Regions from separate parts of the Homo sapiens genome. Here region 2 is linked to region 1. Evidence: fine-mapped expression QTL. A gene starts in region 1. The other region holds a variant in brackets. All regions are shown on one strand. Distances are between the middles of the regions. Region 1 holds the start of LETMD1 (LETM1 domain containing 1). Region 2 overlaps BIN2 (bridging integrator 2).

Region 1 (9,699 bases):
TGAGATGGAGTCTCCCTCTGTCACCCAGGCTGGAGTGCAGTGGCATGATCTCGGCTCACTGCAACCTCCCCCTCCCGGGTTCAAGTGATTCTCCTGCCTCAGTCTCCTGAGTAGCTGGGATTACAGGTGCACACCACCACGCCTGGCTAATTTTTGTATTTTTAGTAGAGACGGGATTTCACCATGTTGGTCAGGCTGGTCTCAAACTCCTGACTTCGTGATCCGCCCACCTTGGCCTCCCAAAGTGCTGGGATTACAGGCATGAGCCACTGTGCTCAGCCTCTGTAGTTTTTATTTTATTTTTGAGATGAAGTCTCACTCTGTCACCCAGGCTGGAGTACAGTGGCATGATCTCAGCTCACTGCAACCTCCACCTCCCGGGTTCAAGTGATTCTCCTGCTTCAGCCTCCAGAGTAGCTGGGATTACAGGCGTGTGCCACCACGCCCAGCTAATTTTTGTATTTTTGGTAGAGACGTGGTTTCACTATCTTGCCCAGGCTGGTCTCGAACTCCTGACCTCAAGTGATCATCCTCCTCAGCCTCCCAAAGTGCTGGGATTACAAATATGAGCCACTGCGCTTGGCCATATTCATTTAATAAATATTTAATAAGCCCCCCTTGTGTGCCAGGGACTGGAATACAGTGAGCTTAGACTCCTGTGGGGAAGATAGCCATGAAATGTATAATGACACAGCTAATTAATTATGATGTTAAGTACTATGAAAAATAAGTATAGCTAGCTACAAAGTGAGTAACAGGAACCTCAGTCTGTGGGGTTAAGAGTTTCCTGTAACAGAGCTGTTTATATACAGTGCAGCACTAACTCATATGCCCAGCCTGCCTGGGTTCAAATTCTGACTCAATCTTGAGCAGATTATTGAACCTCATTTTCCTCATGTATAAAGTGGAGCTAGGTCTGGCTTAGTGACTCACACCTATGTGAACCCAAAATATCTGAGACAGGTCTCAATCAATTTAGAAAGTTTATTTTGCCAAGGTCAAGGACATGACACAGCCTTAGGAGGTCCTGATGACACGTGCCCAAGGTGGTTGTGGCACAGCTTGGTTTTTCTTTTTTTTTTTTTTTTTGAGACAGAGTTTCGCTCTTGTTGCTCAGGCTGGAGGCAATGGCGTGATCTCGGCTCACCGCAACCTCTGCCTCCCGGGTTCAAGCAATTTTCCTCTCTCAGCCTCCTGAATAGCTGGGATTACAGGTGTATGTCACCATGCCCAGCTAATTTTTGTTTTTTTTTTTCTTTTTGAGATGGAGTTCCGTTCTTGTTGCCCAGGCTGGAGTGCAGTGGCGCAATCTCAGCTCACCACAACCTCCGCCTCCCGGGTTCAAGCGATTCTTCTCCCTTGGCCTCCTGAGTAGTTGGGATTACTGGTATACGCCACCAAGTCTGGCTAATTTTGTATTTTTAGTAGAGACGGGGTTTCTCCATGTTGGTCAGGCTGGTCTTGAACTCCCGACCTCAGGTGATCCACCTGCCTTGGCCTCCCAAAGTGCTGGGATTACAGGCATGGACCACTGCGCCAAGCCTAAGTTTTATATTTTTAGTAGAGACGGGGTTTCATCATATTGGTCAGGCTAGTCTTGAACTCCTGACCTCAGGTGATTTGCCTGCCTCAGCTTCCCAAAGTGCTGGGATTACAGGTGTGAGTCACTGTGCCCAGCCCACAGCCTTTTGTTTGTTTGTTTTTTGAGACACAGTCTCACTCTGTTGCCCAGGCTGGAGTGCAATGGTGTGATCTCAGCTCACTGCAACCTCCGCCTCCCAAGTTAAAGTGATTCTCCTGCCTCAGCCTCCTGAGTAGCTGCAGCTGGGATTATAGGCACGCACCACCATGCCCGGCTAATTTTTGTATTTTTAGAAGAGATGGGGTTTCACCATGTTGGCCAGGATGGTCTTGATCTCCTGACCTCGTGATTCGCCCGCCTCGGCCTCCCAAAGTGCTGGGATTACAGGCGTGAGCCACCGCGCCCAGTCGGAAACCTGAAAGGTTTTATAAAGAGAAATGACAAGCTTAGATTTGCAATTTTAAAAGCTCTCTCTGGTTACATACAACATGGAGAACTGGTTGGAGGGAGGACAAAACATATGGCAGGGAAACCAGTAAAGAGGCTGCTGTAGAAGTGGGGACCAGAGGCTTGCAGCTTAGCCTAGGGTGGTGGCAGAGAAGATAGAAGGAAGCTGGCTGATTGAAGAACAGCTAGAAGATAGAACCAACAAGATGCATGTGTGTGTGTGTGTGTGTGTGCGTGTGCACGCGCGTGTGTGTGTGTGTGTGTGTGTGTGTGTGTGTGTGTAGCGGGGGAAAGGGGGAAGAGGCCTAAACACTAAATAAATATCTCAGGAAAGGGCTGGGTGCAGTGGCTCAAGTCTGTAATCCCAGCACTTTGGGAGATCAAGGCAGGGGAATTGCTTGAGTCTAGGAGTTCAAGATCAGCCTGGCTAACGTGGCAAATCTCTATCTCTACTAAAAACACAAAAATTAGCTGGGCGTGGCGGCATGCGCCTGTAATCCCAGCTACTTGGGAGGCTGAGGTGAGAGGACCACTTGAGCCCAGGAGATCAAGGCTGCAGTGAGCCATGATGGGGCCACTGCACTCTAGCCTGGGCGACACAGCGAGACCCTATGAAAGAAAGAAAGAGAGAAAGAGAAAGAAAGAGAGGAAGGAAAGAAAGAAAAGGAAGGAAAGGAAGGAAGAGAAAGAAAGAAAAGTCTGAGGAATGACCTGTGTTCCTGCCACATTCTTTCATTGCATGAAATGCCTTCCCCTCTACTCCATCCTTTCAGACACAGTTCCTTCCTATTTTCTCCACAAAATTCTGATTTTGTCTCCTTTCCAAGAGAGTTCCAGAATTTTAGAGCTGAACATTCTTGAGTAGTTGACATGACTCAGAAGCTACCTGAAGATGGCTGGGCACGTTGGCTCACGCCTGTAATCCCAGCACTTTGCGAAGCTGAGGTGGGCAGATCACCTGAGTTCAGGAGTTCGAGACTAGCCTGGCCAACATGGTGAAACCGCGTCTCTACTAAGAATACAAAAATTGGACTGGGTGTGATGGCTCACACCTCTAATCCCAGCACTTTGGGAGGCCGAGGTGGGAGGATCACGAGGTCAGGAGATCAAGACCATCCTGGCTAACATGGTGAAACCCCGTTTCTACTGAAAATACAAAAAATTAGCCAGGTGTGGTGGTGGGCACCTGCAGTCCCAGCTACTCGGGAGGCTGATGCAGGAGAATGGTGTGAATCCGGGAGGCGGAAGTTGCAGTGAGCCGAGATTGCGCCACTGCACTCCAGCCTGGGCAACAGAGCGAGACTCCGTGTCAAAAAAAAAAAAAAAGAATACAAAAGTTGTCTGGGCATGGTGGCGGGCGCCTGTAAACCCAGCTACTTGGGAGGCTGAGGCAGGAGAATCACTTGAATCCGGGAGATGAAGGTTGCAGTGAGCTGAAATTGCGCCACTGCACTCCAGCCTGGGTGACAGAGTGAGACTCTGTCTCCAAAAAAAAAAAAAACAAAAAAAAAAACTACCTGAATATGAAGACCATGTCTTAGTCAACTTTTTTTTTTTTTTTTTTTTTTTTGAGACAGTCTCACTCTGTTGCCCAGGCTGGAGTGCAGTGGTGCGATCTTGGCTCACCTCAACCTCCGCCTCCTGGGTTAAAGCGATTCTCCTGCCTCAGCCTCCCGAGTAGCTGGGATTACAGGCGCCCACCACCACATCCGGCTAATTTTTGTATTCTTAGTAGAGATGAGGTTTCACCATGTTGTCCAGGCTGGTCTCGAACTCCTGACCTCGGGTAATCAGCCCGCTTCGGCCTCCCAAAGTGCTGGGATTACAGGCATGAGCCACGGCGCCCAGCCGTCTTAGTCAACTTTCTATCCCGTCCACCCCATCTACCCAACACTTGTGAAGATCCAGGGCCATCTTTTAAAACTTTTCCTCTGACTGCACGAGTGGTACAGTCATTAATAACCTGTGCTAATATAAAGCTCTGTGACCCATAAAGCATTATACAGATGTGGGAGCTTTCACAGCTGTATTCTCTTTGGATCCTCAAAGATTTCTTATAAAGTAGGTACTATTATAAGGGAAATAAACTCAGAGCTAAAGTGACATATCCAAGGTAACATTCACTAAAACAAACGTCAATGCCAAGATTGAACCTATATCCAGGGAACCCACATGGGATGCTCTACCACCTTCCATGAAGAATAAATATTCATATATATCCAAGAGGACTGTTAATTCTTGGAGGCAGTTAAGTACCACTTCTGGGAATCCTTCTTAGTTTCAAGTATGAATCTATTCAAACATGTTTACTGAACACCTACTATGTGCTAAGTAAGGCACCTAGTGTTGGAGGTGCAGCAATGAACAAGGCAGAGAAGATGCTTACCCTCATTCTAGTTCAGGGAGCTGTCAAACAAGGACACAAATACATAAACACTGTAAGTGACAGATGCTACAAAGAAAATACAAGGCCGGGTGCAGTGGCTCACGCCTGTAATCCCAGCACTTTGGGAGGCCAAGGCTGGCGGATCACTTGAGGCCAGGAGTTGAAGACCAGCCTGACCAACATAGTGAGATCCCGTCTCTACTAAAAATACAAAAATTAGCCGGGCGTGGTGGCGGACGCCTGTAATCCCAGATACTCGGGAGGCTGAGGCAGGAGAATCGCTTGAACCCGGGAGGCGGAGGCTGCAGTGAGCCAAGATCGCGCCACTGCACTCCAGCCGGGGCGACAGAGCAAAACTGTCACAAAAACAAAACAACAAAACAAAACAAAACAGAGTAACATGAGAATAAGTGTGAAGTGTGTCCTTTTCGCCGGCACTGCTTCAGATAGGGTGGTCACAGAAATCCTCTCAGAATAGTAACATTTAAGTTGAGACAGAGCTTGGTCTTCGGTAGGTGCTTAACGAAAACCATTTTCCCACAAACTTAGTTCTGGAAACGACAAAGAGAGGAAAAAGTGTACTCAGTCCGCACAGGGGCCGCTCCCAGGCCTCCAACCTTCGCCGCCAGACTGACTGGAAAGTGGACAGTTCCCGGCCTATCCACGCCGGCACCATTAGAGGGCGCCGCGGGTCCTCCTAGCCCCAGGCACTGGCAAACTGACATCTGCTACCTAACAGTCGAGGCTCCGACGCCCCGAGTCCAGGCAGAGGGCAAGGGCGGCGCTGGGAAGCCCTGAGGCCCTAAGGAATCGCGGAGGGTCACTGGGCGCCTCAAGGACAGGGTGCCCTCCGCGTCGCAAACCCACACCAGTGGCATAAGAACTCGCTCCCTCTGGGACACCCTGTTTCCGGCGCCTTTAAACCTGGAAGTACTGCTGTGTCCAATCCTGGCCCTCCTTCCGCACTTAGTCTTTGAGTCCTTCCCTCTCCTGGCTTGTGCTGGAGCCAAGCAGGCTATGGCTACCAATCAGCGCTCAGAAAAGACGCATGCGTCTTCGAACGAACGCGACGTACGGTTAACTTTGACCCAAAGACAACCTCTTCTCTCCCGCTTCTCTCGCTGTGAAGATGGCGCTCTCCAGGGTGTGCTGGGCTCGGTCGGCTGTGTGGGGCTCGGCAGTCACCCCTGGACATTTTGTCACCCGGAGGCTGCAACTTGGTCGCTCTGGCCTGGCTTGGGGGGCCCCTCGGTGAGGGACCTGTAGCGAGAAAAGCATTTTTGACGTCCAGGCTCTTTCAGTGTCTCAACCTTGCTTGCATTCTGTCTCTTAATTCTCAGAGTTCCACGCCTTGGCCCTGGAATTTTTATTCTTCTGTTCAGGATTCAAACTCCGATCCCCACTAGTGACCCGGCTTCCTGACCCTCTGTACTCTCAGTGCCCCATATTGTCTGGTTTCCCCGCGTGTCCTGAGCTCATCTTTCAGCCTCACTTTTTCGGCTCAGGTTTTACCGCTGCTATCTCGATTCCACCTCTTTCTGACTTAGCCTGCAGTTCAAATTGTCCCACAGGCATTGCGCTCTCTCCAGAGGCATACCCTGAGTTACTTTCCTGCCTGGCCTTTGCCTGATTTGTGTTTCACAGTCTGATTGCCTATCTCTTCTTGACCCCAAGACCTTCCTTGGATTTCAGAAGTGTCAAGCCTTGGGATACAATCTCCGAGACTCCTGCTTTACATTAGGGACTCAAGGCGTGAGGGAGCTTCTAGGACTGATTCCCAGATAGTCTCTTTGATCTTCCTTGTAGGTCTTCAAAGCTTCACCTTTCTCCAAAGGCAGATGTGAAGAACTTGATGTCTTATGTGGTAACCAAGACAAAAGCGATTAATGGGAAATACCATCGTTTCTTGGGTCGTCATTTCCCCCGCTTCTATGTCCTGTACACAATCTTCATGAAAGGTAAAAACGAAACTACAATAGAAATTCCGGAATCAGCTCTTGGGCAGGGTCAAAGAGTTAGCATAAATAAGATCATTTGCAGGTTCTGCTATGGGGATGTGAGCCGAGATATCTTATATTTCATAAATGCCTGCGCCTTAAACTAATTCCTATAAATTAGCACTTCTTGAGAATGTTTCTAGAAAGATGTTATGAGAAACAACTTATGACAGCAACATGAGGGAGGGAGAATATAGGTATGTTCTCGTACTTTCTTAACCACACACCTGGCTATAGTAGAAATTTTTTGCCTTGCACACGGCAGGGATCTGTGGCTGTATAGACCTGCCCTGTGATGTATCAGTTGACTTACCCATAGGAAAATGAGGTCTAACCCTTGTTATGAATCTATATTAGGTAGTATGTTGTAGTGGCAATAGCCCTACATAATACTTGGTTTCTAAATGTTTTGTTTCAAATCAGAGATCCTTAGTTACTAGGAGAAGATATGTATCGTGTCAAGTGTCTACTCTGGAGCCAGATTGCCTGATTCAAATCCCAGTTCGTCACTGTGCGATTGGACTAATTAATTAACCCCTCTTTCCTTGGTTTTCTTATGTGTAAAATGGGAGTAATGGAACCTACCTATTTATCACATGATTGTGAAGACTTTAAAAATTGATACATGTAAAGTACCTAGAACAGGTCCTGATCCCTAGTAAGTGCCAAGTAAATGTTAACTTATTTTCATCTAAATGTTACCTAACAGTATTATAAGTTGGTGCAAAAGTAATTGCGGCTTTTGGCTTTCAGTGGCAAAAACCACAATTGCTTTTGCACCAAATCTATAATATGCTCTATGCTTTTATCATAACACTATAATAAACTACATTGTCAAATCTGAACATTATCATAATTATTACTAGCTTCATGGACTTGAAAAATTACTTATCCTTAATTTGTAGAGATAAAATTGGCTGCTTTTTCTGTTTTCATGTAGATAAATAGGATCAAATGAGAGAAAGGGATGAAAGCATTTGTGTTTGTTTTTAAACTTTTTATTATGAATTTTTTTTTTTTTTGAGTCTCACCGTGTCGCCCAGGCTGGAGTGCAATGGCATGATCTCGGTTCACTGCAACCTCTGCTTCCCGGATTCAAGCAATTCTCCTGCCTTAGCCTCCCAAGTAGCTGGGAATACAGGCGCCTGCCACCACACCAGGCTAATTTTTTTATTTTTAGTAGAGGTGGGGTTTCACCATATTGGCCAGGCTGGTCTCTAACTCCTGACCTCGTGATCCGCCTGCCTCGGCTTCCCAAAGTGCTGGGATTACAGGCTTGAGCCACCGCGCCCGGCCAACTATTATGGAAATTTTTAAACACACACAGATGTAGAGAGAGTAGTGTAACAAACTTCCATGTATTAACCTCACTTCATTATCATAACTCATGGCTGCCAATCCTATTTATATACTTGCCTTATGTATTATTTTGAAGACAATCGAGACATCATATAATGACATGTAAATCATTGATAAATATGAAAGCATTAAAGAAATAGATGCAAGAAGCCGGGCGCGGTGGCTCATGCCTGTAACCCCAGCACTTTGGGAGGCCGGGGCGGGCGGATCATCTGAGGTCGGGCGTTTGAGACCAGCCTGACCAACATAGAGAAGCACCGTCTCTACTAAAAATACAAAATCAGCCAGGTATAGTGGCACATGCCTGTAATCCCAGCTACTAGGGAGGCTGAGGCAGGAGAATCTCTTGAACCTGGGAGACGGAGGTTGTGGTGAGCCAAGATCGCACCATTGCACTCCAGCCTGGGCAACAACAGTGAAACTCCCATCTCAAAAAAAAAAAGAAAAGAAAAAAATTAGATGCAAGAATTTTCATAAAATGAAAATTTAAAATGTAATCATAAAAATATATTGAACTAAACTACTTTAAAAAGTGTTCCAGGCTGGGCACGGTGGCTCACGCCTGTAATCCTAGCACTTTGGGAGGCCAAGGCGGGCGGATCATGAGGTCAGGAGTTTGAGACCAGCCTGGCCAACATGGTGAAACCCAGTCTCTATTAAAAATACAAAAATTAGCCAGGTGTGGTGATGGGCACCTATAATCCCAGCTACTCGGAAGGCTGAGGCAGGAGAATTGCTTGAACTCAGGAGGTGGACGTTGCAGTGAGCCGAGATTGCGCCACTGCACTCCAGCCTGGGCGACAGAGCAAAACTCCATCTCAAAAACAAAAATAAGTGTTCCAGGCCGGGCGCAGTGACTCATGCCTGTAATCCCAGCACTTTGGGAGGCCGAGGCAGGTGGATTGCTTGAGGTCAGGAGTTAAAGACGAGCCTGTCCACATGGTGAAACCCCATCTCTACTAAAAATGCAAAAATTAGCCAGGCATGGTGGCACACGCCTGTAATCCTAGCTACTTGGGATTCTGAGGTGGGAGAATTATATAAACCTGGGAGGTGGAGGTTGCAGTCAGCCGAAATCGCACCACTGCACTCCAGCCTGGGCAACAAAGTGAGATTCCATCTCAAAAAAAAGAAAAAAAAAGTTCCAGAAAGGAGATTAAATTAATATCTGGCTGGGGAATACATAGGGTTAATTTAGCAAGACTTTCTGAAGTTAGGGAGCTTGATTTTTAAAAAGGAGTGACCAGTGAAACAGAAGAGGGAGACCATTCCATAGCAGATTACAGAAGCCAAATGTAGCTAGAAGAGAGGCGATGTGCTAGGGGAAAAAATGTTGAGAAAAGAGATTCGAGTTGACCTCAGGAGTTTCAAGTTACCTAGTTTAAAGCTTTGAGTATCGTTGGGGAGGGGTGAGAGTGTTTGCATGTGATTGAACATGGAGTAGGAAGCTGTGGTTAAGATTTAAACTGGGATAACATCACACTCTGTCCTCTACTTTAATGAGGCAGGATTGCAGATGTTATGGGCTGATGCCAAAAAGGCTAGAAGAATAAAGACAAATATGTGGAAGCACAATATAAAGTTTCATCAACTTCCATACCGGGAGATGGAGCATTTGAGACAGGTATGGGCCAGGGGCAGATATCCAGAAGTTCATGGTGAGGTAATTACATTTAATCAAGATCTCAAGGTTTTTTCTTTCATTTGTTGTTCACCATTGATCAAGCTTTTGCCCTTTGCCGTGAGAACAAAATATTGAACTGAATGAGGCATCAGATTATTTGTAAGAATTGGGTTCATCCAGAGTTGTAGCCCTCCATAGCAAGAGCTCCATAGAATTTCTGGCACACTTTCTGAATGAAAGTTGTAAATACTAAAATCTAATTAGTTTCTGAACATAACAAAAGTCTGCAAGGGGGCTGGGCGCG
Region 2 (8,000 bases), 250 kb after region 1:
ACCTTCTTGCTTCCGTTCTCAAACTGTAAACAAATGTCCTTTCCACCATGTTTTCCTAACTTTGTGCTTTTTGCTGGTGATTTTGCTACTTTAAATGGCCCCCAAGCTGTAGTGCTAAGTGCAAAAAGACTGTGATGTGCCTTCCAGAGAAAATACATGTATTATTAGGTAAGCTTCATTCAGGCATGAGTTACAATGCTGCTGGTTGTGAGTTCAATATTAATAAATTAATAATATATATTAAATAAGGTATCTTTAAACAGAAACTCACATAAAACAAGGTTATATGTTGGGTGGTTGATGAAAATGTTGTGACCAGGGGCTCACAGAAACCTGTGTTTTGATGTTCAGTGAGTATGGCAACTTTATAAAACAAAACTACCATGAACAACAAGAATCAACTATAACATCTATCAAGTAGCTGCTATGTGCTGGATGCCATGCTTATCCTTGAGCATCCAAGATTAGAATCTAGAATATATCAGCCAAAAAAAAACCACCTTATTTTTATTTATTTTTTTATTTTTTTTGAGATGGAGTCTCGCTCTGTCGCCCAGGCGGGAGTGCAGTGGCGCGATCTCGGCTCACTGCAAGCTCTGACTCCCGGGTTCATGCCATTCTCCTGCCTCAGCCTCCCGAGTAGCTGGGACTACAGGCGCCCGCCACCATGCCCAGCTAATTTTTTTTTGTATTTTTAGTAGAGATGGGGTTTCACTGTGTTAGCCAGGATGGTCTCGATCTCTTGACCCCGTGATCCACCTGCCTCGGCCTCCCAAAGTGCTGGGATTACAGGCGTGAGCCATCGTGCCTGGCACAAAAACTTACATAGATCGATTTTTTTAAAAAAGGTCAACAACCCAATTGAAAAATGGGAAAACGATATATAGGAAAGTCACAGAACAGGAACCTTAAATGGCCAATAACATGAAAAGATGCTCAAGGAAACTAGCAATTATGAAGCTATGATTTAAAACTGCAAAAAAATTCCATTTTATACTCATGAGCTTGTAAGAATGAATAAGTCTGACAATTTCACATGTAGTGAGAATGTGGACTCATGAGGGCTCTTACTCACTGCTGATGGGTGGTAAACTGGAATTATCACCTTGCAGAGCAATATGGAAATATCTCATTAAGGGTCAAGAAGCCCCATGACAGACCTTATGACTCAACAATCCTGCTCCAAGTATAGACCCTAAAGAAACTCTTGATAATATTCACAGGGACAAATGTAAAACATGTTCATCACAACATTATTTATAATAGCAAAAACCTAGAAGACAACTCAAATGCCCCAAACTAGCAGGAGGATAAATAAATCATGAAGTAGGCATACAGTAACAACTATAGAAAGGAAACAGCAGAGCTATTATAACAACATGTAGCAATAACAAAAAATCTTACAAACAACACTAAGAGAACAAAAGAAGTTGCAGAACAATACATACAGTATAAGTCCATTTATATAAAGTTTAAAAACATGCAAAACAGCCGGGCGTGGTGGCTCACACCGGTAATCCCAGCACTCTGGGAGGCCAAGGCGGGCGGATCACGAGGTCAGAAGTTCAAGACCAGCCTGGCCAGTATGGTGAAACCGCGTCTCTACTAAAAATACAAAAATTAGCCGGGTGTGGTGGCATGTGCCTGTAATCCCAGCTACTCTGGAGGCTGAGGCAGGAGAATTGCTTGAACCCGGGAAGCAGAGGTTGCAGTAAGCCAAGATTGTGCCATTGCACTCCAGCCTGGGTGACAGAGCAAGACCCTGTCTCAAAAAAAAAAAAAACAAAAAAAACCCCCCAAAAACATGCAAAACAATATTTTATGTGTGCATGTATGTGTGAAACAATACAGTGTGTGCATGTTACATTTAGTATTACATTTAGTATTTATTTCCATGCGTATTATTTTATGTGTGAAACATACATGCACACATAAAACAACACACATAGAAATGATAAATACTAAATGTAACATAGCGGTTACCTTTAGTGGGGTCAGAAAGAAAAAGTGAGTGGGGAAGGAACATTGGGAACTTCAGCTATATTTACAACAGCCAAGTTCTTAAATTTGATGGTAGGTACATGGCTATTTGTTGTATTATTCTTTATACGTTCGGTTATGTCTAAAATATTTAATTTTTATTAATTTTTTTAGAGACAGGGTCTTGCTCTGTCATCCAGGCTGGAGTGCAGTGGCATGATCATAGCTCACTGCACCCTCAAACTCCTGCACTCAAGTGATCCTCCTGCTTCAGCCTCCTGAGTAGCTAGGAGTACAGTTACGCACCACCTTGCCCGGCTAATTTTTTTTTTCTTTTAATCTTTTTTTGTAGAGATGAGATTTCACTATGTTGCCCAGACTGGTTTCAAACTCCTGATCTCAAGTAATTCTCCTGCCTCAGCCTCCCAAAGTACTGGGATTATAGGCATGAGCCACCATTGTCTGGCCTTGAAATATTCAGTAAAAAGTGGCCGGGCGCGGTGGCTCACGCCTGTAATCCCAGCACTTTGTGAGGCCGAGGCGGGCGGATCACGAGGTCAGGAGATTGAGACCATCCTGGATAACACGGTGAAACGCCATCTCTACTAAAAATACAAAAAAAAAAAAAAAAAAAAATGAGCCGGGCGTGATGGCGGGCGCCTGTAGTCCCAGCTACTCAGGAGGCTGAGGCAGGAGAATGGCATGAACCCGGGAGGCGGAGCTTGCAGTGAGCCTAGATCGCGCCACTGCGCTCCAGCCTGGGCGACAGAGTGAGACTCCGTCTCAAAAAAAAAAAAAAAATATATATATATATATATATATATATATATATATATATATATATATATATATATTTAGTAAAAAGCAAAATAATTTATATAGGAGCATAGTACAAACAACAAACATCATCACGCACATGCACATAAGGGACAGGTCAGGATTCTGGACTGGAGATGAGGATGTTGAATACATTCACACACAGGACAAGCGAAGCAAAAAAGTCTTGGATGCTGCTCACCTTGACAGTCCCTTCACCACAAAGACTTTATTGGAATGTTGCTTCTCCAGTTTGCTCATCACCTCGTAGAGATTGTGGTTCAGCTAGAGCCAATAAGAAAGAAGGGGATGCTAGCCAACTGGGAACCCGAGAGTGGCATATCCCTTCTCCCCTCCCCTTCAGACAGCTTCCCAAAATAAAACCTCCCCCTTTCAATTCTGATGTGAATTCCTCTTCATCTGTCTAGCATTAGAGTCCAGGGTCCTGTCCCGCCACCCCCTCTTCCCTGTCTCTCTGTGTTCTAAGTTCTGCCTCTTCCATCAGACTGGCAGCTGTCTCAAGGCAGGGTCCATAACTGATGTCTGATTTGAGGTTCTAGCTTCTCACAGGTGATCCAGGGAATGAAAACTCATTTTTAGGCCAGGCGCCTAAAAATGTAAAACTCATTTTACAGGCTCATGCCTGTAATCCCAGCACTTTGGGAGGCCGAGGTGGGCGGATCACGAGGTCAGGAGATCGAGACCATCCTGGCTAACATGGTGAAACCCTGTCTCTACTAAAAATACAAAAAAATTAGCTGGGCGTGGTGGTGGGCACCTGTAGTCCCAGCTACTCGGGAGGCTGAGGCAGGAGAATGGCGTGAACCTGGGAGGCAGAGCTTGCAGTGAGCAGAGATTGCGCCACTGCACTCCAGCCTAGGTGCCAGAGCAAGACTCCGTCTCAAAAAAAAAAAAACCAAAAAACCTCATTTTTAATATTAACTAGGCAAATCATACTTTAGCCAAATAAACTATGGAGAGTAGTATGTATAGCTGTTTGTGAATATAACTAATATAAATGTTGTAGTAGCAAAGAATCTTGGAATCCCAGGACTAGAAAAGACTTCATAAATTATGTTATATGGCTGCCTGTCACTGACAGGATTAGTCTTATTTGAGACCAACCACCTGAGAAACTGACTTGTCCTTAAACACTGCCCTCTCCAGTCCCCAGCAACAATAGATAGATATTTCACAATGGGGTTCCCCATTTTAATTTTTCCTTCTATAGGCCTAACCTCCTTTATTCATGCTAAAGCTCAAATTTGGACACACTTACTCAGTTGTTAAGGGAGATGAAGAGGGCCCTCGGATAGTGTATATATGTGTTTCAATACAGTTAAGTACACAATCAAGTGCTCTTATTTCATCATGAGAGAAAAGCCAAAATCTGTGGTGCCAATACGGATATTTAAAGAAATCATGTAAGTCAAGGCTACCTTCATATTTACTAGAAAACACACCTAGGAGCCTCAATTGGCCAGACACCTCTCACCTTGCTCATTTCCCTGTAGAAGACATCCCTCAAGTTGGAAATGTTTTGGAAGATGGTCACATAGCAGCCAATACGACTATTAGGAAGCAAAACCACAAACACATACGAGTAAGGCATGGGAAAGGAGTTCTTTGTTTGAAATACAAAGTAGGACTTAAGCCAAAACCAGCCACCAAGGCTCCTAAATGAAAGCCATCCCGCTGGGCACAGTGGCTCACGCCTGTAATCCCAGCACTTTGGGAGGCCAAGGTGGGCGTATCATGAAGTCAGGAGATC[A/G]AGACCATCCTGGCTAACATGGTAAAACCCGTCTCTACTAAAAAAAAAAAAAATTAGCCGGGCGTGGTGGCATGAGCCTGTAGTCCCAGCTACTCAGGAGGCTGAGGCAAAAGAGTCGCTTGAACCTGGTAGGCAGAGGTTGCAGTGAGCCGAGATCGTGCCACTGCACTCCAGCCTGGGCGACAGAGCGAGACTCTATTTTAAAAAATAAAAAAAGAAAGCCATCCCACATCCCACACTCAGGATGTTCTGGGATCTGGATTCGTCAGAGCTGGGCCAGGAACACACGTGATTCTTAGGAGCAGGAAGGCCAGGGGAGACAATATCAGCTCAGGCTGACACCAAAGTTTAACAGTTTCATGGAGTTATCTGATTTGGGCTCTTGAAGGGCTGAGGAGACATAAAAGGGCTTTGAATAATTTTTTAAAGGGCTATATAAATATAAGGCTATCTAATTATAACTATTACAGTAAGTAATTATTCTTTCCCTTTATGCAATACAGGATGACTTCTGCGCCTGTATGTACATTAATGGAATTCTCCTGTAAGTGAATCAAGGAGGTATACTTTTAAAGAAACTGTATTAAATTTCATTTCTAGGCCAGGCACGGTGGCTCATGCCTGTAATCCCAGCACTTTGGGAGGCTGGGGCAGGTAGATCACCTGAGGTCAGGAGTTTGAGACCAGCCTGTCCAACAGGGTGAAACCTGTCAAAAAATACAAAAATGGCCAGGCACGGTGGCTCACGCGTGTAATCCCAGCACTTTGGGAGGCTGAGGTAGGCGGATCACAAGGTCAGGAGATTGAGACCATCCTGGCCAACATGGTGAAACCCCATCTCTACTAAAATACAAAAACTTAGCTGGACTTAGTGGCACGCGCCTGTAGTCCCAGCTACTTGGGAGGCTGAGGCAGGAGAATCGCTTGAATCCGGGAGGTGGAGGTTGCAGCGAGCCGAGATTGTGCCACTGCACTCCAGCCTGGCAACAGAGTGAGACTCTGTCTCAAAACAAAACAAACAAACAAACAAAAACAAAAATTAGTCAGGTGTGGTGGCACGTGCCTGTAGTCCCAGCTACTCAGGAAGCTGAGGTGGGAGAATTGCTTGAACCCGGGAGGCATAGGTTACAGTGAGCCACACTCCAGCCTGGGTGACAGAATGAGACCCTGTCTCAAAATAAATAAATTAATTAATTAATAAAATAAAATAAAAAATAAAATTTCAATTTCATTTTAATTAGGAGTCACATAATGTTTTAGAATACATGTGTTCATTAAAAAGGCTCCATCCTATGTACACTAATAAGTGACAATATAAAATATTCTGACCATAATTCTATTAATGCATCTCTTGTACAATAAAAAGAAAAAAGGATACAAATGGAGTTTCTGCTTAGATTTCTCTTTAAATGTGGAAAATCTGGCTGGGCATGGTGGCTCACGCCTGTAATCCCAGAACTTTGGGAGGCCAAGGCAGGGGGATCACTTGAAGCCAGGAGTTCGAGACCAGCCTGGGCAACATGGTGAAACCCCATCTCTACTAAAAATACAAAAAAAAATTAGCCAGGCATGGTGGCACATGCCTGTAATCCCAGGTACTCGGGTGGCTGAAGCACAACAATCACTTGAACTAGGGAGGTGGAGGTTGCAGTGAGCTGAGATTGAGTGCTACTGCACTCTAGCCTGGGTGACAGAGTGAGACCCTGTCTCGAAAAAAAAAAAAAGGGGGCGGGGCAGTGTGGGAATTTAAATCTAAAACACTTTTATCTACTTACTGTCAAGGCACACAAGGTGCCTTGTGTGAAGCAAAGGCACCTTTTCTGAATTTCAGTCATTACCTATTATAAAGAATAGGCAGCTCCTCTAGTAGTTCTTGGTTCAGATCTTCAAACACAGTCTGGGCTTTGTTGAACTCTTCCTCTGCCTAGGTGGTAAAAGAGACAAGACAATCTCCCTCAATTCTGAACCCAGTACTACAGCATGCCTCCTTCATCCTCTGCATTTTTTTAGGCACTAGGCTTTTTAGGAGCCATCCCTCTTCTTCCCCTGACCATGCCCTCCCCAGCCTCAAGACTCTGACTATCCTTACAGCATCAGTGTCAGAAGAAACAGATTTCCTTTAGGACACTGGATGCTGAATTTATAATTTCCTATACCCATGTTGGCCCAGCCACCTGCTACCACCATGGGGAGAAGGAGAACAGGAAGGGTTTACCAGTTTTTGTTGTTGTTTTTGTTTTACCTTGGCAGTCTTGGCCTCATCTTTCTTCTTGGCATTCTGCACTGCCTCCAGGTGGTGTCGGGCACTGTCATAGTCCACGAGTTTCCGACCCCGCTTGGCAATTCTCTCCTGACCCAGGGTAATGAGAAAGGGTGTGGATACTCACTTTTTAGTGGCCAGGATGTAGGTAACAGAATACCAAACAGAGAGCAAGATTCTTGCATCCTACTATCAAATTTCACTTTCGTTGTTTTTTGCTTTTGTTTTTTTTGAGACAGGGTCTTGCTCTGTTGCCCAGGCTGGAGTGCAGTTGTGCGATCTCAGCTCACTGTAACCTCTGCCTCCCAGATTCAAGCAATTTTTGTGCTTCGGCCTCCCAGGTAGCTGGAATTATAGGCATGTGCACCAAGCCCGGCTAATTTTTGCATTTTTAGTAGAGATGGGGTTTTGCCATCTTAGCCAGGCTGGTCTCGAACTCCTGGGCTCATGTGATATGCCCACCTCGGCCTCCCAAAGTGCTGGGATTACAGGCAGGAGCAACCGCACCTGGCCCAAATTTCACTTTCTAATAGGGTTTTGCGCCCATGGGGTCTCCCTCAGTATCTGGGAAGAATGGGGGAGTCTCAGAGGGAGATAGAGTCCTACAGAGCATGTGGAAATCTGTATTAATTATATATATGTAATAGATATATAATTAAATACATATATATATTTCCACCTCCACCTCCCGCTGTATTAAATTTTAATATTTCCTATGAACCCATTATAAACTGGTTCAGCCTCCAGGAGAAATGGCCTTGAGAATCACATGAAAGTGAAAGTCTGGATTTTTGGGAATTAGTCCCAAATCTGCCATTCATAGCCTGTGGCCAGTGGCAAGGCACATCTCTTTTGGAGCCTCAGTAGCCCCATCTCCCCTTATACAACTGTTATTTGAAAGAGTGAATGCTGAATACAAAGTGCTTTGAAAGCTCTAAAACACAATAAAAGCTATAAATTACTATGACCACTGAGAGAAAGTCTACTCAGCCTTATCCAAACTATAAATTATACCAGTGAGAAGCAAACTATGTCTTTGAACCGTTTCATTCTCTCAGTCACAGAATTTGAAAAGATCTTAGCAATTATCTGGTCCAATTTCCCATACAATACCATGAGGCTTCTCTATAACATCCAAGATAAGAAGTAGTTTGACTTCTGTTTGCACAAAGA

What was found.
Region 2: its variant is fine-mapped to the expression of LETMD1 in whole blood (TOPMed, PIP 0.95).

Annotation. Positions count from the first base shown.
Region 1 is chr12:51,042,813-51,052,511 of GRCh38, forward strand. LETMD1 (LETM1 domain containing 1) reads left to right here and starts at 5,515. Exons shown (of 9, transcript NM_015416.5): 1 at 5,515-5,666; 2 at 6,222-6,373; 3 at 9,280-9,395. The coding sequence starts at 5,545. RefSeq lists enhancers at 4,790-4,909, 4,960-5,039, 5,130-5,399, 5,221-5,759, 5,510-5,559 and 1 more.
Region 2 is chr12:51,292,798-51,300,797 of GRCh38, forward strand. It overlaps BIN2 (bridging integrator 2), which reads right to left. Exons shown (of 13, transcript NM_016293.4): 6 at 6,810-6,917; 7 at 6,406-6,491; 8 at 4,292-4,367; 9 at 2,999-3,081. Among named protein-coding and RNA genes, the nearest start is that of SMAGP, 26 kb to the left of the region's middle. The variant A/G (reference allele first, on the strand shown) is at 4,568.